Regions from separate parts of the Homo sapiens genome. Here region 2 is linked to region 1. Evidence: fine-mapped expression QTL. Tissue or cell type: whole blood. Region 1 holds a variant in brackets; the other region holds the start of a gene. All regions are shown on one strand. Distances are from middle to middle. Region 1 has its middle 6.4 kb from the start of COA7. Region 2 holds the start of ZYG11B (zyg-11 family member B, cell cycle regulator).

Region 1 (10,589 bases):
ATTTATACTATTACATATAGAAGGCTCTTAAAATAGGACCTGGCAAGGCCAGCCACAGTGGCTTAGTTATATAATTCCAGAACTTGGGAGGCCAAGGAGGGTGGATTACTTGAGGCCAGGAGTTCAAGACCAGCCTGGCCAACAGGGCCAAACCCCATCTCTACTAAAAATACAAAAATTAGCCAGGCGTTGTGGTGCACACTTGTAGTCCCAGCTACCCAGGAGGCTGAGGCAGGAGAATTGCTTGCGCCCCCGAGGCAGAGGTTGCAGTGAGCAGAGATCGTGCCACTGCACTCCAACCTGGGCGACAGAGCAAGACTCCATCTCAAAAAATAAAAAAAAAAAAAGAAAGAAAAAAATAGGACTTGGCAAGATATAACTGTTATATAAGCATTGGCTATTATTATAAAATCCTCCTGCAAATCCTGCAAGCTAGACATTATTTTTTTGGGGGGTGGGGAATGGAGCAATCCTTTATTTTTACACACTTTGACAAGGAGGTTTTCTGTAAACAACCTTTCCAGTGGAGAACAGAGAACAGGAAAATCAGCCTCCAGACATCAGCAGCTGCTCTGTTCAGGGCCAAGGCTCTGCATTGTCCACATGGTGAGGTGGAGGGGTGTACTTCCCTTCCTTTATCAGCTTATCCCGCTGCTTCCTAATGGTACTCAGACGTCTCATCGTTTTCTGCTAAAGTATACACTCTACAAAATCATCATATTCTATCTTGCACTCCTTCTCTGCCTGGATACTAACGATTCCATGTGCACATTCTATCCATTCTTTTTGAAAAGCCTGGCATCGAGCAGGAATCTTGTAGGGCTGTTCAGCACTTTGGATTGTCCACCATCAATCTATGTTAAGGCTGAACCTTTTCAGCACATCCAAGAAAGGCATGGCGATCCAATGCTTATGCCCTTGTCTCTTTTCTGGCCCCCACCCCCCCACTTTTTTTTTTTTTTTCTGAGACAGGGTTGAGTCTCACTCTGTTACCCAGGCTAGAGTGCAGTGGCATGATCTTGGCTCACCGCAACCTCTGCCTCCTGGGTTCAAGTGATTCTCCTGCCTCAGCCTCCCGAGTAGCTGGGACTACAGGTGTGTGCCACCATGCCTGGCTAATTTTTGTATTTTTAGTAGAGACGGGGTTTGGCCATGTTGGCCAGGCTGGTCTCAAACTCCTGAACTCAGGTGATCCGCCCACCTCGGCCTCCCAAAGTGCTGGGATTACAGGCATGAGCCACCACACCCGGCCCAGGGGACTCTTCTATAAGAGGGTGCTGTGTCCATCTCCTACAGATTATGCATCTACCAGGAACAATGTATGTGTGTTTTGGAATGGTGATAAAATTATACTTCCCTAGTCATTCTCACCTGTCATCTACTATTCACTGTTCTAGCCTTTTCCTAGGAGGTCAGATGCTTGTAAATAATTTATTCTCCAACAAAAAGAGCCTTTCCTAAACTAGGAATTCCTTGGCAGTGTGGGAGTAAATTCCCTAACTGATGATAACTCTTTTACTGCACATTCTTTTCACTGGGCATGTGCTCAATAAATACCTCTCCTTTGTGTCATGCTGTGTGCTGGACACTGAGGACACAGAAATAGATAAAACCCAGGCCCTGCCCTCAAGGTACTCAAGTCTAGTAGGAAGGGAAGGAAGACAACAGAAAAAGAACATGGTAAGTACTCTTATAAAAAGAAGCATGTTTGTGTGTGGTGGCTCATGCCTGTAGTTTCAGTTACTCAGGAAGCCGAGGCGGGAGGATAGACTGAGTCCAGGAGTTTGAGGCTGCAGTGCACTATGGTCATGCCTGTAAAATAGCCACTGCACTCTAGCCTGGGCAACGTAGTGAAACCCTGTCTCAAAAAAGAAAAAAAAAAAAAAGGAAGCAGAGCACTTGCTAAAGCACAGAGGCAACCAGCCTGGTGGTGGGGGCAGTCAGTGGTCAGAGCAGGCTTCCTGAAACAGGCACTACTTGACCTGGGTTGTTGTTGTTGTTGTTGTTGGTTTTTTTTTTTTTTTTGAGACGGAGTTTCGCTCTTGTTGCCCAGGCTGGAGTGCAATGGCACAATCTCAGCTCACCACAACCTCCGCCTTCTGGGTTCAAGCGATTGTCCTGCCTCAGCCTCCCAAGTAGCTGGGATTATGGGCATGTGCCACCATGCCCTGCTAATTTTGTATTTTTAGTAGAGACAAGGTTTCTCCATGTTGGTCAGGCTGGTCTCGAACTCCCAACCTCAGGTGACCTGCCCGCTTCGGCCTCCCAAAGTGCTGGGATTACAGGCGTGCGCCACCGTGCCTGGCCTTGACCTGGGTTTTGAAGGAAAAATAATTACCTTAATTAACGGAGAGGGAAGAGCATTCTAGGCATAGGGAATCACATGTGTGAAGGCACTGGAACGTGAAAGCAGGTGATGTTTATAGGGTCAACAAATAATTTGGGATGAGGTTCAAAGAGTGTGTATGGGAGGGAAGAGAACAAGCTGGAAAGGCAGGCTGGGGCGGATAGCAAGGTTTGTGGCCAAAGGTTAGGGGCGTAGACTTTAATGCCATGTGACATTTAGTTCCAGTTCTCTACTGGCACAACTGCTTTTTTCTGACAGTCAGTATTTGGTTACATTTAGAAGTCCAGATTAGTTTTTTCACTCAACAACATGGGCTGAGCACCTCACTGTGTCAGTTTTTATGTGCAGGCAGGAGGGCTCAGGAATAGACTTTTGGGGTCACAGCCTGAAATCTTGTGAGCTTTTTTTAGAAGGCAGTAAATCTCACCCCTGACTTGAGATGATTTGTCCTAAAACCTGATCCCTTCCTTGTCCTTGGTGTTGCAACCCTTCTTCCTCATTTGGATTTCCATGAGCATGCTGCAGTGAGCTGGGTCCACACACACATTATGGGAATGGCTATAATCAGAAGCCGAGCCAGCCAGCTTAGGTGGTGAACACATGCCCGTTGTGCTCTGGCACGTGAGTCTCATGAATGAGATGGAGCAGGCAGAGAATATCAGGTCCCTACTCTTTGGGATTTCATAGTCTTAAAAGCAGAAAGTTGGCCGGGCGCGGGGGCTCATGCCTGTAATCCCAGCACTTTGGGAGGCTGATGCAGGTGGATCGTGAGGTCAGGAGTTCAAGACCAGCCTGGCCAAGATGGTGAAACCCCCCTCTCTACTAAAAAAAAATACAAAAAAATTAGCCGGGCGTGGTGGTGGGTGTCTGTAATCCCAGCTACTCAGGAGGCTGAGGTAGAGAACTGCTTGAACCCAGGAGGTGGAGGTTGCAGTGAGCCGAGATCGCGCCACTGCACTCCAGGCTGGGGGCCAGAATGAGACTCCATCTCAAAAAAAAAGAAAAAAAAAATTAGATCTGGAGGCATTGTTATAAGTTATTAACCACATAGCATAAACGGAGCACTTACAAAGTGCTTCACTCTGTGTTGGGACCTGGAAGGCAAATAAAGAAATCATATTTGGTTCCTATCCTTAAGGTGCTCCCAGTCTGGTAAAACAGGCGATGACCACAGTGCTTCAGGAAGTGGAGGAGCCCTCAGCTGGCTAACCACAGCCCACTGTCAACCAGTAGGGGTTAGGAAGGCATCCTAGACAAGGACTGGTGGTCGGGCAACATAGTTTGAACTGACACTGGAGAGACGTGGAAAGAGCAGCCCACACAGACAAAACAGCCTGAGGAGTTCAGAGAAGAGGAGTGGGTCAGAGGGATTGGTTTGTCTAGTATAGGTGGGGAAGTAGCAAGTGGAGTGGTTGGCGGGGGCCAGATGGGAGGGCCTGGAATGCTGAGCTAAGGATGCGGGCATTGTGGAGCCTTTGGTTTCCAAATGGGGGTGACACAGCTCTTTTAGAAAGACAAGTCCCTTTCATTCCTGGGCTCAGTGCGCTCACCTGTAAAATGAGGGAGTTGAAGATTATTTTCAAAATCATTCCAGTGCATGTATCCTGTGATTTACAGCATTGCTTCTTAAAGTTTATTGTGTATCTGTGTCACCTGGGGATCTCAGTAAAATGCATATTCTGGCCAGGCAGTGTGGCTCACACCTGTAGTCCCAGCTATTTGGGAAGCTGAGGTGGGAGGATTGCTTGAGCCCAGCCTGGGCAACATAATGAGACCCCAGTCTCTAAAAATAATAATAATTTTAGGCCGGGTGCGGTGGCTTATACCTGTAATCCCAGCAGTTTGGGAGCCCAAGGCAAGTGGATCACCTGAGATCAGGAGTTTGAGACCACCCTGGCCAACATGGTGAAACTCTGTCCCTACTAAAAATACAAAAATTAGCTGGGCGTGGTGGCACATGCCTGTAATCCCAGCTACTCAGGAGGCTGAGGCAGGAGAATCACTTGAACCTGGGAGGCGGAGGTTGCAGTAAGCCAAGATTGTGCCATTGCACTCCAGCCTAGGTGAGAAGAGCAAAACTCCATCTCAAGAAAATAATAATAACTTTTAAAATGCATATTTTGGTTCAGTAGGTGTGGTGGGGGTCCCAAGGTTCTCCATGTCTACTAGGATCTCAAATGATATGGATGCTGCTGTTCCTCAAGCCACACTTTGAGTAGCAAGGATTTAGTTCTTGGGTACTCAAAGTGTAGTCTGAGGTCCAGCCTTTGTAAGTCATACAATGTTCTATAAGTTATCTCATTAGGGCCAGGCGCGGAGGCTCACACCTGCAATCTCAGCACTTTGGGAGGCCAAGGCGGGTGGATCACCTGAGGTCAGGAGTTTGAGACCAGCCTGACCAACATAGAGAAACCCTGTCTCTACTAAAAATACAAAATTAGCCGGTGTGGTGGCGCATGCCTGTAATCCCAGCTACTCAGGAGGCTGAGGCAGGAGAATCACTTGAACCCAGGAGGCAGAGGTTGCAGTGTGTCAAGATCGCGCCATTGCACTCCAGCCTGGGCAACAAGAGCAAAACTCCGCCCCCCCCCCCCCCCCGAAAAAAAGTTATCTCATTAGAAATAGTGTGCTACCTAATTTTTACAGTGTTTTAAGGTTTGCAAAGAGATATACAAACCTTATTTCCTTCACTGCTTTCAGCAGTTCTTCTTGAGAGGTAATTTTTTTTTTTTCTGAGACAGGGTCTCACTCTGTCATCCCACCTGGAGTGCAGTGGCAAAATCATGGCTCACTGAAGTCTCAAATTCCTGGGCACAATCAGTCCTTCCGCCTCAGCCTCCCAAGTAGCTAAGACTACAAGCACATGCTGCCACACCTGGCTAATGTTTTTATTTTTTGTAGAGACGGGGTCTCTTTATGTTACCCAGGCTGGTCTTAAACTCCTAGGCTCAAGGGATCCTCTCACCTTGTCCTCCCAAAGTGCTGAAATTACAGGCATGAGCCACAGCACCTGGCCAAGACAACATTTTCATGGTTATGTAAAACACCCTTTAAACTTCGGTATTGAGGTTGGTTTGTCTTTTCCCAGCATCAAGGTGGGGTAGAGATTGGGAGTCCCATTTTACAGATGAGAAGACTGAGGATATAAAAAGAGAATAAAAGAGAATGGATTTAGCCAAAGCTGAACAAACACTATGGAAGTGGCAGAACAGTAATTAGTATTGAAACCTCTATTCCAGTGCTTATTTCCAGCAAATGTCTTTTTTTATTTTTATTTTTTATTTTTTGAGATGGAGTCTCACTCTGTCGCCCAGGCTGGAGTGCAGTGGCACGATCTTGGCTCACTGCAACCTCTGCCTCCCGGTTTCAAGTGATTCTCTGCCTCAGCCTCCCAAGTAGCTGGGATTACAGGCACATGCCACCACGCCCAGCAAATTTTTTTGTATTTTTAGTAGAGACGGGGTTTCACCATCTTGGCCAGGCTGATCTTTAACTCCTGACCTCATGATCCACCTGCCTCGGCCTCCCAAAGTGCTGGGATTACAGGCATGAGCCATTATGCCCGGCCTTTTTAAAATTTAATTTAATTTTATTCTTTGTCTTTTTTGAGATGGAGTTTCATTCTTGTTGCCCAGGCTGGAGTACAATGGCACGATCTCAACTCACTGCAACCTCTGCCTCCCCAGTTCAAGTGATTCTCCTGCCTCAGCCTCTCACGTAGCTGGGATTACATGCACCCGCCACCATGCCCAGCTAATTTTTGTATTTTTGGTAGAGACAGGGTTTCACCATGTTGGCCAGGCTGGTCTCGAACTCCTGACCTCAGGTGATCTATCCACCTCAGCTTCCCAAAGTGCTGGGATTATAGGTGTGAGCTACCACACCGGCCTCCTGGCCCTTTTTTTTGAGAGAGAATCTCACTCTGTCACCCAGGCTGGAGTGCAGTGGTGTGATCTCTTCTTACTGCAACCTCTGCCTCTTGGGGTCAAGCAATTCTCCTGCCTCAGCCTCGCAAGTAGCTGGGACTACAGGTGCCTGCCCAGAGGGAAGAGTATGACGCTGTCACTAACTTGCTGCGTATCCTGGGACAAGCCCCTTTCCTCTCCGGACCTTGGTCCTTTTCCCTGTAAAGCAGGTGCCTGTCCAGCTTAAAGCACAGCCCGGGAGCCTCAGAGACAGGCAGGAAGTCAAGGTTGCAATAATTCGGGTTTCCGAAAGCTTTGCGCTTGCCCTAGGCCCGACAGGTCACGTGGGGACTACGTGATGTGCAATCGCCGCTGTTGAAACAAGAGCATGTGCAGGGCTGGCAGCTGTCACGGCCTTTCTATATCTTG[G/T]GGGGATGGGGAGTGATGAGGTGAGGAAGGGCTGCAGGCTCTACGGGCACGGGCTTGAGGGGGTTGACTGGCCAAAGCAGGAAGGGCAGGGCGTCTCCACGGCTAACCCACAAAATGCTGAGAGTCCCGAGGGGATCTGCAGAGGACGGCGAGCTGGGCAGCCCCCGAGCAAGCCACCTGGAACCTCCCTCAGCTGCACCAGCCACTCAGAAAGATCGGGTCCGTTTAGACACGAGCACCAATCTCAGGCCTCCAAAGTGACCTCACAGCAAACGTGATTGGTCCGGTCTCTCTCACGGGGCGGCTCCTTTACCAACGTGTAACCCTTTGGGAGAGGTTTAGCGGGCTGTGTGACCTGGTGGAAATCACTTTACTTATCTGGACCTCCTTTATAAAAAGGAGGTATTAAGACCTATCCCGAGGCCTGGAGCGGTGGCTCACGCCTGTAATCCCAACGCGTTGGGAGGCCGAGAATGGATAATCTTTCTAACAAATGGTGCTAGAGTAATTATAAACCCACATGCAATAAAGTGAACCTCAACTGTTATCTCATACCTCATACAAAAATTAATCTGAAATGGATCATAGGCTTTCTAAATATAAGATTTAAACCATAAAATTTCTACAAGAAAATATAGGATAAAATCTTAGTGACTTTGGGTTTGGCAAAGACTTCTTGAATACGAAAGAAAAAGCACAAACTATTAACAAGAGGAAAAAAATCAATAAACTAGACACACCATTAAAATGAAAAACTTTTGGTTTTGAAAGACACTGTTATAAAAACAAAAAAGGCAGGCCAAACTGGGAGAAAATATATGCAAAACTTCTGATAACGGACTTGAATATATAAATAACTCTTAGAATGCAATAATAAAAAACAATCCAATAAAAAGGGGGCGAAAGATTTTAACAAACATGTCATCAAAGATACACAGATGGCAGATAAGCACATGAAAAGATGCCAACATTATTGGTCACTCAAAAAAATACAAACTAAACCTATGATAAGATACTGTTATATTCACTATAATGGCTAAAATTTTAAAAGACTGACCACACATCAAATTATGGTGAGGATGTAGGGCAACTAGAACTGTCAAACACTGCTGGTAAGAATGTAATGGTAGAATCACTTTAGAAAACAGTTTGGGTGTTTCTTAAAGTTAGATATATACCTACCATATGATCTAGCCATTCCACTCCTAGGTATGAACCCCAAAAATGGAAATGAATGCCCATACAAAGACACGTACACAAATATTCACAGCAGCTTTATTTGTAAGCCAAAAACTGGAAACCCAAATGGATAAACAAATTGTGATATATCTACATCATGAAATGTCATTCACTAAGAAAAAGAATGAACTATTAATACGTGTGGTAACATGGATGAATCTCAAAATAATTATGCTGAATCGAAGAAACTATACAAAAAGAAACAGTACTTACTGTATCATTCTATTTAGATAATATCCTACAAAATGCAACCCATCTTCAGTGACAGAAAGCAGATTAATGGTTGCTGGGGAGGGAATGAAGTACAAAGTCACATGAGGAAATTTTGAGGTGATGAATATGCTCATTATCTTGATTGTGATAATGGTTTACAGGTGTATACATATGTAGAAACTCATAATTGTTACTTTAAAGTTATGTGCAGTTTCCTGTATGTCAATTAGACCTTCATTTAATGTTTCTTATAGCTTTAAGAAAAACCTGGGTCAAAAGAGCAAGAGTCAGTGATATTCTAAGTTCCATTAATGAAAACCAAATTATTTGGAATGATAATCCCTCTTCTTAATTCAGTCAACAATACTTGGGCACCTAATATTGCTGGGCACAATCAAGACACTGTTATTATAACAAGAATGAGCTAAGACCACATGGACGATGTCAAATTGAAGCAGAGAACTTAAGAAGGCAAGCCAAAAAAAAAAAAAAAATACAGGGGAAAAGCACTCTAGGGCAGAGGCAACAGTTAGTTCAAACGGATCACGAGGTCAGGAGTTCGAGACCAGCCTGGCCGATATGGTGAAACCCCATCTCTACTAAAAATACAAAAATTAGGCGGGCATTGTGGTGGGCGCCTGTAATCCCAGCTATTCAGGAGGCTGAGGCAGGAGAATTGCTTGAAACCGTAAGGCGGAGGTTGCGGTGAGCCAAAATCACGCCACTGCACTCTAGCCTGGATGAAAGAGCAAAACAAAAAAAAGTGACCTCTTACTTGGTTGAGCCTCTCATCACCAACTAACTCTCTTGTGCCCTCTACCGCTCAGGTGATCTCATTTCAATGCAGTTCAACTCAGAAAATAAAGGGAAACATTCCCAGATTTTAGTAATCGACATCACCCTGCTCTATTCTATCATCAAGCCCTATTCTATTCTTGGCCCTGTGACCAGCATACAGGACACAGAGGTCACAGTCTGGTGGGGAACACAGACTTTCATGCCATTATTGGCATGACAAGAAACATTCCTGGAACAGGAATGACTTTGAGCCAGGCGCTCTGCCAAGCACATTGCATACATGAACTTGTAGTCCTTCTGACAGCCATTACAAATGGATCTGCATTTACAGAAGAGGATTCAGACTCACAAACATGATTGGTTTAAGGTTACAATTTAATAAACATGGAACATGGATTCTGAACTAAGATCTGTCCCCACTCCAAAGCCAGTTCTTTCTTTCCTACTACACTATACCAGAATAAACCAAGTGGTGTGGAACACCAAAATGGGAGCATCTAAATCTAATTTGAATGTGTGTAATTGTTGTGTCTGGGAAGACTTTACATAGGAGAGTATTTCCGATTTGTGTCAAAAAGGGTGGTCCAGGCATCAAGAGCAGAGGTAAACAGGGACACAAACTTGGGATCTATTCAGAGAACAGAAGGTTGGTGGGATGTGGGGGAAGAGAGGCAGAAAATAAGGCTAGAATCAGATTGCACAGGGTCTTGAAGGCCATCCTAAAGAAGATGACCTCAAACCAAAGTTCAAGGATTCCCATCCTGGGCCATGTGTACTGAGGAGTCCCCTAAGGTGATCAGGGTATAAGAAACCACAGGTAAATGTGGTATATTGCCTGGAATGTCAATTTTACTCAAAGGCTTGGGGGAGAAAAGGCAATCTTCTGTTATCCTATGAAAGATGTATTATGGGGAAATGAATGTAAAATCCTATGAATTTAAAAAATAAAACTGGGATTTCAGACATTATTGGCTGCCTTCCAATAAATAAGTGGTTGGAAATAGTCCATTCTTTGCTGCCATTGGGGATAGCTTAATAATGGAGCCATTTGGAAAGCATTGTTATAGGCGATGGGAAGCCATGGATTTAGCTCCATTGAGAATTCAAAAGTAGGGCTGGATGGAATTCAAAGATGAATGGGAAGTCAGCCGGGTGTGGTGGCTCACGCCTGTAATCCCAGCACTTTGGGAGGCCGAGGCCAGCGGACCACCTGAGGTCAGGAGTTCAAGACCAGCCTGGCCAATATAGTGAAACCCTGTCTCTACTAAAAATACAAAAAAAATTAGCCGGGCGTGGTGGTGGGCACCTGTAAGCCCAGCTACTCGGGAGGCTGAGGCAAGAGAATCGCTTGAACCTGGGAGGCGGAGGTTGCAGTAAGCTGAGACCGCGCTATTGCACTTCAGCCTGGGCAACAAGAACGAAACTCCGTCTCAAAAAAAAAAAAAAAAAAGACGAATAGGAAGTGGCTGTCTTAGGAGAACTTTCCATCTAAGCTTTATGGAACTGATGATTCTTAGCAGGAACAGGAGCAGGAAAACAAAGCAAAATGTAGGTAAATTTCCTCTCCTCCTCCCCATCTCCTTGACATGTTCCTTTTCTACCTCATTCATTCTTTTTCGCTCTTGTCGCCCAGGCTGGAATGCAATGGCACAATTTCG
Region 2 (11,193 bases), 21 kb before region 1:
CTCTGTTGCCCAGGCTGGAGTGCAGTGGCATGATCATAACTCAATGCAGCCTTGAACTGCTGGGCTCAAGTGAGCCTCCCACCTCAGGCTTTAGAGCAGATGGTACTACAGGCATGCACCACCATGCCCAGCTATCAACTTGTCCTTTTTCAGCACACTCAAGATATATTAAAACTCTTCACATTTAAAATTACTGTATGAAGGCTGGATGCAGTGGCTTGTGCCTGTAATCCCAGCACTTTGGGAGGCCAAAGCGGGAAGATCCCTGGAGGCCAGAAGTTTGGTACCAGCCTGGCCAACACAGGGAGATCTCTTCTCTACACAAAAACAAAAAATCAGCTGCACATAATAGAGCACACTTGAAGTCCTAGCTTTACTTGGGAGGCTGAGCTGGAAGGACTGCTTGAGCCTAGGGGTTTGAGGCTGCAATGAGCCGTAATCACGCCGCTGCACTCCAGTCTAGGCGGCAGAGCCAGACCCTATCTCAAAATAAATAAATAAATACATAATAAAATAAAATTACTCTATATACATGAGATGAAAAATGCCAGAGGTCACATCTATTTTACTATCTGTCATTTCCCCAGTGTCAACACAGTCAAAGACACTCCAAAAACATTATTAGATTAATTAAAAGTAAGGACTATGTCTTAGACCAGTAGTTCTCAAATTGTGGTTCACAGACCAGCAGCATCAGCATTATGTGGGTTTTGACAGAAATGCAAACTTTTGTAGTAGTTCACGTCTATAATTCCAGCACTCTGGGAGGCTGAGGCAGGAGGATCACTGGAGCCCAGGAGTTTGAGGCCAGCCTAGGCAACATGGCGAAACCCCATCTCTGCAAAACATATAAAAATTAGCCAGGTGTGATGATGGGCACCTGTGGTCCCAGCTACTTGGGAGGCTGAGGTGAGAGGATCGCTTGAGCCTGGGAAGTCAAGGCTGCAGTGAGCTGTGATCATGCCACTGCACTTCAGCTTAGGGACAGAGCAAGACCCTGCCTCAAAAAAAAAAGAACTGCCACCTCTCAGGCCCTGCCCTCAGTTCACTGCAACCTCCACCTCCTGGGTTCAAGTGATTCTCCTACCTCAGCCTCCCGAGTAGCTGGGATTACAGGCATGTGCCACCACACCCAGCTAATTTTTGTATTTTTAGTAGAGACGAGGCTTTGCCATGTTGGCCAGGCTGGTCTCGAACTCCTGACATCTTAAACATCTCAACTATTCAAACACAACCTAATTAACATTTAACAAATATAAAATACAAAGCTTTATAATAATCATTCATTCAACTGTATTTATTATCTACAAAAATATTGCACGAGAAAGTGGCCTCTACTGATAATTCCTAGCTCAAAATAAGCTAATATTCTGCCTTCTCCTCACCTCTCCCATACATACACTGTTACTCTGTGTGTATATGTTTTAACAAGCAAGGAAAAATCAAGTTAATTAGATGCAAAGTTTAAAACATAATCATGCCTAATATGTCTGCTGTGGTCTGAATTCTGTCTCCCTAAATTCATATGTTGGAATCCTAACCCCCAAGGTAATGGTATGAGGAGGTGGGGCCTTTGGGAGGTGATTAGATCACCAGTTAGTGCCCACATGAATGGGATTAGTGCCCTTATAAAAGAGACTCCAGAGAGCTGCCTGGCCCCTGCCACCATGTGTGAAAACAGTGAAAAGGTGACTTAGGAAGAGCCCTCACGAGACACTGAATCCACTGGGGAACTGATTTTGGACTTCCCAGCCTTCCAAACTCTGAGAAATAAATTTCTGTTGCTGACAAGCTACCTAGTTTATGGTATTTTGTTACAGTAGATTGAATGGGCTAAGACAGTATCTTGCTAGCCTCATTTCCTACTACACATCTCCATTCTTGCATCCTTCCATGCTATATAAGGGTAATACTACTTCCTACAATGCATCCTAATTCCTTCCTACTTTCTTTCTTAAAAAAAAAAAAATCCCTGTGAGGGGATCCTTTCTACTTGCTACTCACATTCACAATGAGGCATTCTTCCCCTTCCCAAAATGATCTATATAAATCCTATTCAACTTTCAGGCCCAGCTCAAAGGACACTTTTAGATCCTAAATACCTCAAAGGGGAGTTCATAACTCCTCCCTCTCATACATTCATTCTCAATGGAAGGGCCCACACTTTCAAAAATCTAGCAGTGTAATGTCTTAGGTAGGATAGCTCTTTATTCTGAAAAGTATATCATCATACCTCACTCAATATCATTTTTGCATCAAAATTAAGATTCTCTGCCCAGGCGTGATGGCTCATGCCTGTAATTCTAGCACTTTGGGAGGCCAAGGTGGGAGGATGGCTTGAATCCAGGAGGTCAAGACCAGACTGGGCAACACAGCAAGACTCCATTTCTACAAAAAGTTTTACAAATTAGCGGGGCACGGTAGTCCGTGCCTGTGGTACCAGCTACTTGTGAGGCTGAGGTGGGAAGATCACTTGACCTCAGGAGTTCAAGGTTGCAAAGAGCCATGATTGTGCCACTGCATTCCAGCCTGGGCCACAGAGCAAGATCGTCTCCAAACAACAATTCTCAAACTCACTCTTTCTGTGTAGTCCACTAGTTACCTCAAATTTCAGTTTAAGTTTATATTAGTCAGGTGGGAAATGAGACCATAAAGTGAATCATTCAAGCACCTAGCTGGCCTGGGCACTTGGAATAATAAGTAAGGAACGGTTGCTACCTAGAACTTACATTCCACAGGGAGAAACAGGTTAGCATACAACAACAGTGTGTGAAAGTGAAGGAGACAAACACAGGAAAATGACAGACTAAAAATGCAGGAGTGAGTTAGGGAAAATTCATAGATTAAATAATTTTATAGTATATTACTTTTCTAAAAAACTGCTGGAGGGAAAAAAAGAAACTGACTAACCTCCTAGGGGAACATAATTATCAGGACTTAGTTTTGCCTTATTCCTCCCAGAGACCAAAATTTAGCTTGTTGCATATGATGGAGCAATGTTTTCAATAAATGTACAGCAAACCACTTATAACCCAACTCAATGAAAAAACCAACTGAAGCCTCAACCTATTTTCAGACAGAAAGAAAATTTGCAAATATAAGGTTCTCCCAACTAAAGGCAGACAGGGCAAAACAAATGAACTCTTTAGAAGGTTTAAAGAGACTGTCACAACCTGCCAACCTGATTGTCAGTCCTCAAATGCCCTTGGTCTCTGCCTCCAAATGAAAACAAATCATTTGTTTTTAGTAATAATAGCCAAGCTTGTAAATAAGTATTTTTAAACTTCTCCAACTGCACCTCCACATTAAAAGATGCTCAAAATAAAAAAAATTCAAAACATTTTTTAGCTATTTCTGTCAAAAGACTAGATCTCTCCTGAGGTCACAGTATGCATGCTGGCCCTCACTTCACTGCTCTGTAACACACCACCACTTCGATTTTGCAATGACACTAGGTGAATAGGCTTCCAGGATCTCTTCAATGCCTCCAAAAACGAAAAGGAAGAAGCAAACCTATAAATCCCTATCTGCCCGCCCTACAGCTCCCGGGAAGCAACAGTCCTCAAATTGTTCCTGCTTAGACCCCTGAAGCCCGTAGAAGGAAATGGGGACAGCTGCGACGGCGAACCGAGCGAGGACATCCGATAAGGGAAGAGGAAACGTGGATGGAAGAGGACGAAGGGGAGAAGGAACACGGAGAGAAGGGGGCAGTGGAGATAAAATGGTGAAGAGGGGTGAGAAGAGCAAGGAAGAGCAGCGAAAACTAGGGAGGAAAGGGGGGAAAGTAAAAATCACATAAGAGGAAAAAAGGCAAAATGATAGAGGAGAAAGAAAGGAAGGGTTAGGGTTAAAGGACAAGGAGTGGGCGACAAAGGGAATGCGAAAAAGGCTGTCACTGGGGGTGATAAAAAGGATGTCATCGGGGAGAAGGGAGATTCAGGGGGTGTCACCTAAAGGGGTTCACCGAAGCAGGTGAATGGGGAAGGAGGAGCTGAACACCGAGGGGGCGGTAACGAGGGAGAGAGGTAAAGGCAGGGAGCCCGAGGGGACACCAGAGACAGGGAGGGGCAAGACCGCAGGGGCCAGCGCGACGGGCGGGGGCTAGGGTGGCGGGCGGCTGCGGCTAGGGCAGGCCTTGCTCCCTCACCATGGCTGCGCCGGCCTGGTCCTCGGGCATGCAGCCTCCGTCCTGGGTGCGGCGGCGGGCCGGACCGGAGCCCGCCCCCAGGCTGAGCCGGCGCGGAGGCTCCAGGAGGCTCCGGCGAGCGGCGGCTCCGGGCTTGGCCCAGGCCTCGGCCTCTTTCCCTCAAGCTAGGAGCGTAGCAGTAGCAGCCGCAGCCGCAGCCGCAGCCGCAGCCCGAACCAGAGCGCAGACTCCGCCCCCGCGAGGACCCGCCCGGGCGCGCGAGCCCGCGCCTGGACCCGCCTCCGCTCTCAATGCGCAGACTCAGACGAGGGGGTCCCGCCCCCCCCAGCCCGACCTCCAGCTTCTCCCCCTCCCAGGCCCTTAAAGGAGCCACACACCCCCAAATCCTAGCATCCCTTCAAAATATGAAAAGCTTTAAATATTACATCATGACGAGAGATTAGAGCATCGCTCACTTCGGTCACCTATAGACTCCTCTGTCATTCACCATCATTCTCTAAGATTTGGGCTTCTGGTTCACTGTCATTCATTACTACTATTGTCATAACTCTTGGTTATTTCAAAATTCGCTTAATTCTTCCAATCCTCTGGCCTCTCAGATTCTTCTCTAGGGATCATTCTTGGCTCAGCCTCTCACTCTCATGCTCATACGAATAATTGTAACTTCTCTACAATCTCAATTTTAATCCTCTAACTCCCATTGCAACCTTCTTCCTTTCTTTCTTTCTTTCTTTCTTTCTTTTTTTTTTTTTTTTTTGAGATGGAGTTTCGCTCTTGTTGCCCAGGCTGGAGTGCAGTGGTGCGATCTTGGCTCACTGCAACCTCCACCTCCCGGGTTCAAGTGATTCTCCTGCCTTAGCCTCCCGAGTAGCTGGGATTACAAACACCCGGCACCACACCCGGCTAATTTTTGTATTTTTAGTAGAGAAGTGGCTTCACCATGTTGGCCAGGCTGGTCTCGAACTCCTGACCTCAGGTGATCCGCTTGCCTTGGCCTTCCAAAGTGCTGGGATTACAGGCGTGAGCCGCTGCGCCCGGCCACAACCTTCTTCCTTTCTAGCTCACTCTGTCTGATAATACTCCAACTCCAAAAACTTCAACTCCAAGACCCCAAATCCATTGATCCAACTACCTTTTCGCTATTCCTCCCCACGCTGGCCTTATGTACTCACTTTCTTCCTGAAACAGCTTAGATTCTATCGTCCGTCATGAAATGGAATCTAATAGAATCTAAGCTGTTTGGGGAAGAAAGTGAGTACATGAGGTACATGAAGTCGATTTCTTCAGTATTACCTTCATTTCTCTAGTCGTTCTCTGCTTTCTTTGTACTGACAGAACTCCAGCAATGGAGTGGGTGGAGAAAAAGCCAAAAGTGGTTGACTGACTCCCCGTAAATTTGAGATCATTATTCTCAAGAGGCCATAATGAGTGGCTACCCTACCACATTTCTCCAGTTTCACACACTCTCCCACCTTGCTACATAACTATTTCAAGTCTCCTGTCTCTTCAAACCTCCGACACTTCCTCCCTCATCTCATTTAGCTGATGATTTTGCTTCTAATTCACAAGAAAATCAAACAAACCAAAAAGAACATCTACAAGTTCCCAGCACCCACCATGACTTCCAACGAACCTGTAACTCTGCTTTGATGCTCTCTCTGCCTTCCTTTCCTTACTACAAGTTAATTATTTGTCTTTTAGCTAACATCAAATCCTCCTCAGTTCTCAAGCATCTGTGCTAAAAGACCCAGATTTTATCCCCAATCACAAAACTAAATTTCTGTAAAATACAATCAAAATTAATTACTAGAAAAAATTAAAATTTAAAAACAAGCATCCAAAATGCAAGCCCAGATTTTTTAAACCTGCTTAACCATTTTAAAGTGTACAGTTCAATGGTATTAAATACATTCACATTGTTGTGCAACCATCCCCATCAAGAAGCTCCAGAACTTTTTATTTTTTCTTTTATTTATTTATTTATTTATTTATTGAGACAAGTTCTTACCCTGTCACCCATCAGGAGTACAGTGGCACAATCACGGCTCACTCAGCCTCAAACTCCTGGGCTGAAGCGATCCTCCCACCTCAGCCTCCTAAGCAGCTAGAACTACAGGCACATACCACCACGCCTGGCTACCTTTTTTTTTTTTTTTTTTTGTAGAGACAAGGTCTCACTGTGTTGCCCAGGTTTGTCTCAAACTCCTAGGCTCAAGTAATCCTCCTGCCACAGACTTCTAAAGTGCTAGGATTACAGACGTGAGCCAATGTGCCAGGCCTCCAGAACTTTTTTATCTTGCAAAGCTGAAAGCTTGTACTCATTAAACAATAACTCCCCATTCCTAACTTCCCCCAATCCCTCGCCATCACTGTTCTGCTTTCTATCTCTATGAATTTGACTACTCTAGGCAGAATTTTTATTATTAAACCCAACACGCGTAACATTTTTCTGTCAAATTGTTATAAAAGTTTCAAAATATTAATTCTGAATTGCTGTCACAAACTGGTGAAAAACCATTTCTAGATGGTCACTAGTCCATTGATGACACTTTGAGGAGCTCAAGTACTAGGTCTCATACCACGTCACTTTCTCAAAGACACCTATCCAGCAATTCTTCCTCTCACCTACATCGCTATTTTTCTGCTATTACCTCTCATTGCTATAGCAACATGATTTTATTTCTTCCATCTTAAAACAATCAAACAAAAAAACCCTCCTTAGGTTGCAGTGAGCCAAGATCACGCCACTGCACTCTAGCCTGGGCAACAGAGCGAGACTCCACCTCAAAAAAAAAAAAAAAACCCTCTCTTGACTGGACTTGACCCCCCACCTACTGCCCCATTTCTCCATTCTCTTTTCTGCAAAATGTCTCACAAAGGTGGCTTGTACATGGTCTCACTCTGTTGCTTAGGCTGGAGTGCAGTGGTGCGATCTCAGCTCACTGCAACCTTAGCCTCCTGGGTTCAAGCAATCCTCCCACTTCAGCCTCCCAAGTAGCTGGAACTACAGGCATGTGCCACCACGTCCAACTAATTTTTGTATTTTTTGTGGAGATGAGGTTTCATCATGTTGCCTAGGCTGGTCTTGAACTCCTGAGCTCAAGCAATCTGCCTGCCTTGGCCTCCCAAAATGCTGAGATTACAGGCATGAGCCACCTCGCCTGGCCTTGACTTCCTTTTTCTCATTTTCGGTGAGATCCTCTCTGGTTAAGCTTTTACCTCCTCCACTCCACTGAAATGCCCTTGTCAAGGTCACTAGTGGTGTCCATTTGCTGACACCAGTCAATTCTCAGTCCTCGTGTTACTTGACCTACCAACATCACTAGACACAGCTCATTACTTCCCCCTCCTTGGCTACCATGACATTTCACCCCCTCGGGTCTTCTATCTCACTGGCTGCTCCTAGTTTCTCCTCATTTCTCTGACCTCTAAATACTGTAGTACCCCAAGGCTCAATATTTCGACTTTTTGTCTTTTGCATGTACACTCCTTGATAATCTTATCCCAACACATTACTTTAAATATTATCTATGCTGTGATAACCCCAAAATTATATCTGCATTCTGAATTTCATACTTAAATATCTAACTGCCAGCTAAACATATCCCCTTATATGTCTAGTAAGCTACAATTTTTCTTAGTAGTTACTCAATAGACTTCCCCTCAAGTACCATGGATAAGCCAATAAATACCAAAGAGAATAGGACCAACAATAGTAGCTTAGACCAATCATGATTTACTCTCCGTCTGATCTGTGAGTTACTTTCCCTAAGGACTTCCTTGTAGTGGAGGAAAATCGTCATTAAAAATTAGAGTTCTGGGCTGGGTGTGGTGGCTCAGGCCTGTAATCCCAGCATTTTAGGAGGCTGAGGTGGGTGGATCATGAGGTTAGGAGATCAAGACCAGCCCGGCCAACATGGTGAAACTCCATCTCTACTAAAAATACAAAAGAAATTAGCTGGGTGTAGCGGTGCGCACCTGTAGTCCCAGCTACTCAGGAAGCTGAGGCAGGAGACTCGCTTGAACCCGGCAGGCGGAAGTTGCAGTGAGCCAAGATCACTCCATTGCACTCCAGCCTGGGCGACAGAGAGGGACTCCTTCTCAAAAAAAAAAAAAAAAAAAAAGAAAGAAAAAAAAATTAGAGTTCTAGCCAGCCAAGGTGGTTCACACTTGTAATCCCAGCACTTTGGGAGGCCAAGGCAGGCAGATGGTTTGAGACCAAAAGTTTGAGACCAGCCTGGGCAAAATGGCAAAATCCCATCTCTACAAAAAAATACCAAAAAGTAGCTGGGCATGGTGGTAGTTTCAGCTACTCAAGAGACTGAGGTGGGAGGATCACCTGAGCCCTGGAGGTCGAGGCTGCTATGAGGCATCATCACGCCACTGCACTCCAGCCTGTGTGACAGAGTAAGACCCTATCTCCAAAAATAAATAAATAAATAAGAGTTCTGCAATCAAGAAAGAATGGAGTCACAGTTGATTTGCTTGATTTGCAATCAATGAAGCACAAACAGATCAAAAATACATCCAAATTACCTAGGAATTTAGTATAATACTGAAGGTAGCATTTCAAGTCAGAAAGCAAAAGTTGGAATTGTATTTGGTGTTAGAATAACTGGATAGACATCTAGAAAATTTTAACTTGGATTTATACTTCACACTATTCACCAAGACAAATTTCAAATATATCAAATATTAAAATGTAAAAAAGAAGAACGAGCATGGTGGCTCACGCCTGTAATTCCAGCACTTTGGGAGGCCCAGGCAGGCAGATCACTTGAAGTCGAGTTCAAGACCACCCTGGCCAAGATGGTGAAACCCCATCTCTACTAAAAATACAAAATTAGGCCGGGCACAGTGGCTTCCAGCACTTTGAGAGGTCAAGGCAGGTGGATCACAAGGTCAGGAGTTCAAGACCAGCCTGACCTAGATGGTGAAACTCCGTCTCTATTAAAACTACAAAAATTACAGGCAACGGCTGTAATCCCAGCTACTCCGGTGGCTGAGACAAGAGAATCGCTTGAACCTGGGTGGCAGAGATTGCAGTGAGCCAAGATCGAGCCACTGCACTCCAGCCTGGATGACCGAGTGAGACTCCGTCTCAAAAAAAAAAAAAAAAAAAAAGCCGGGCACAGTGGCTCCCGCTTGTAATCCCAGCACTTTGGGAGGCCGAGGTGGGCAGATCATGAGGTCAGGAGATCGAGACCATCCTGGCTAACACGGTGAAACCCCGTCTCTACTAAAAATACAAAAAATTAGCCGGGCGCAGTGGCGGACGCCTGCAGTCCCAGCTACTCGGGAGGCTGAGGCAGGAGAATGGCGTGAACCCGGCAGGCGGAGCTTGCAGTGAGCCGAGATCGCGCCACTGCACTTCAGCCTGGGCAACAGAGCGAGACTCTGTCTCAAAAAAAAAAAAAAAAAAAAAAAAAGTAAAAAAGAAAGAAGCGCCGGGCGCGGTGGCTCACGCCTGTAATCCCAGCACTTTGGGAGGCCGAGGCGGGTGGATCACGAGGTCAGGAGATCGAGACCATCCTGGCTAACAAGGTGAAACCCCGTCTCTACTAAAAATACAAAAAATTAGCCGGGCGCGGTGGCGGGCGCCTGTAGTCCCAGCTACTCGGGAGGCTGAGGCAGGAGAATGGCGTGAACCCGGGAAGCAGAGCTTGCAGTGAGCCGAGATTGCGCCACTGCAGTCCGCAGTCCGGCCTGGGCGACAGAGCGAGACTCCGTCACAAAAAAAAAAAAAAAAAAAAAGAAAAAAAAAAAGAAAGAAGGAAACCATAACATACTGGAAGAAAGAATCATGGGAGAATTTTTTAGAATCTTAAAGTAAGGAAGGTCTTCTTAAGTACAAAACAAGAGCTGGGCACGGTGGCTCATGCCTGTAATCCCAGCACTTTGGGAGGCTGAGGTGGGCACATCATGAGGTCAGGAGTTCGAGACCACCCTGGCCAACATGGCAAAACCCCGTCTCTACTAAAAATACAAAAATTAGCCGGGCATGGTGGTAATCCCAGCTACTCCAGAGGCTGAGGCAGGAGAATCCCTTGAAACCGGGAGGCGGAGGTTGCAGTGAGCCAAGATTGCGCCGCTGTACTCCAGCCTGGGCAAAAGAGGGAAACTCCGTCTCAATAAATAAATAAATAAGTACAAAACAAAACCAAGATGCCATAACAGAAAAGATTGATAAATTCAGCTATGTAGAAATAAAAAATGTAAGGCAAAAGTCACCATAAGTAGAGTCAGATAACAAATGACTATATGTATATATGTATGCATTTCATATAGGAAAATGAATAATGTTTATATTTGTATTCAGAGCTGAAATCAATAAGAACAAAACCCAAGGGGAAAAATGCACAAAAGATGTGAACTGATAGTTCACAGAAAAAGAAATAGAAATGGCTCTTCAATGCTCACTCTTACTTATAATAATAAGATAAAGGCAAATTAGAATTTCTTTGAAATTACCATTTCTCATCTGTCAGATTGGCAAAGATCTATGATTGATAAGATACTGTGTGGAAAGGAGGGGTGATGTTGAACAGGTATGCTCATATTTTGTTGTTGGGAGTGTAATTGGGATAACTTCTATGGAGGATAATTTAACGGTGGCATTTATAACTTGTCTGAATGCATGTTCCCTTTGACCCAGCAATTTCCCTTTTTTTATTTCAGCAATTTCACTTTTAAAAGTTTAATTTATACACATGCTCAAGCCTTACTTGTAATAGCAAAAGATTGAAAACAACTTAATGTTTTATTTTTATTTTATTTATTTATAGAGACAGGGTCTCACTCTATTGCCCAGGTTGGAGTACAGTGGCCCAATCATCATTCGCTGCATCCTTGAACTCTGGAGCTCAAGCCATCCTCACACCTCAGCTTCCCAAGTAGCTGATACTATAGGCATGGCAGAAAAAATGAAAAAAAAAATTAACTTTTTGTACAGACGGGGTCTGGTTGATGTTGTCTAGGCTGGTCTCAAACTCCTGGCTTCAAGCAATCCATCTGTCTCAGCTTTCCAAAGCACTGGGATTATGGGC

Evidence for each region. PIP is the estimated chance that this variant, and not a neighbour inherited with it, causes the effect.
Region 2: it holds the start of ZYG11B, and the variant in region 1 is fine-mapped to the expression of ZYG11B in whole blood (TOPMed, PIP 0.96).

The regions. Positions count from the first base shown.
Region 1 is chr1:52,699,430-52,710,018 of GRCh38, reverse strand. It overlaps the pseudogene NDUFS5P3. Among named protein-coding and RNA genes, the nearest start is that of COA7, 6.4 kb to the right of the region's middle. RefSeq lists enhancers at 6,059-6,599, 6,594-6,893, 6,600-7,141. The variant G/T (reference allele first, on the strand shown) is at 6,682.
Region 2 is chr1:52,719,638-52,730,830 of GRCh38, reverse strand. It overlaps ZYG11B (zyg-11 family member B, cell cycle regulator), which reads right to left and starts at 4,378. Exons shown (of 14, transcript NM_024646.3): 1 at 4,148-4,378. The coding sequence starts at 4,177. RefSeq lists a silencer at 3,988-4,567.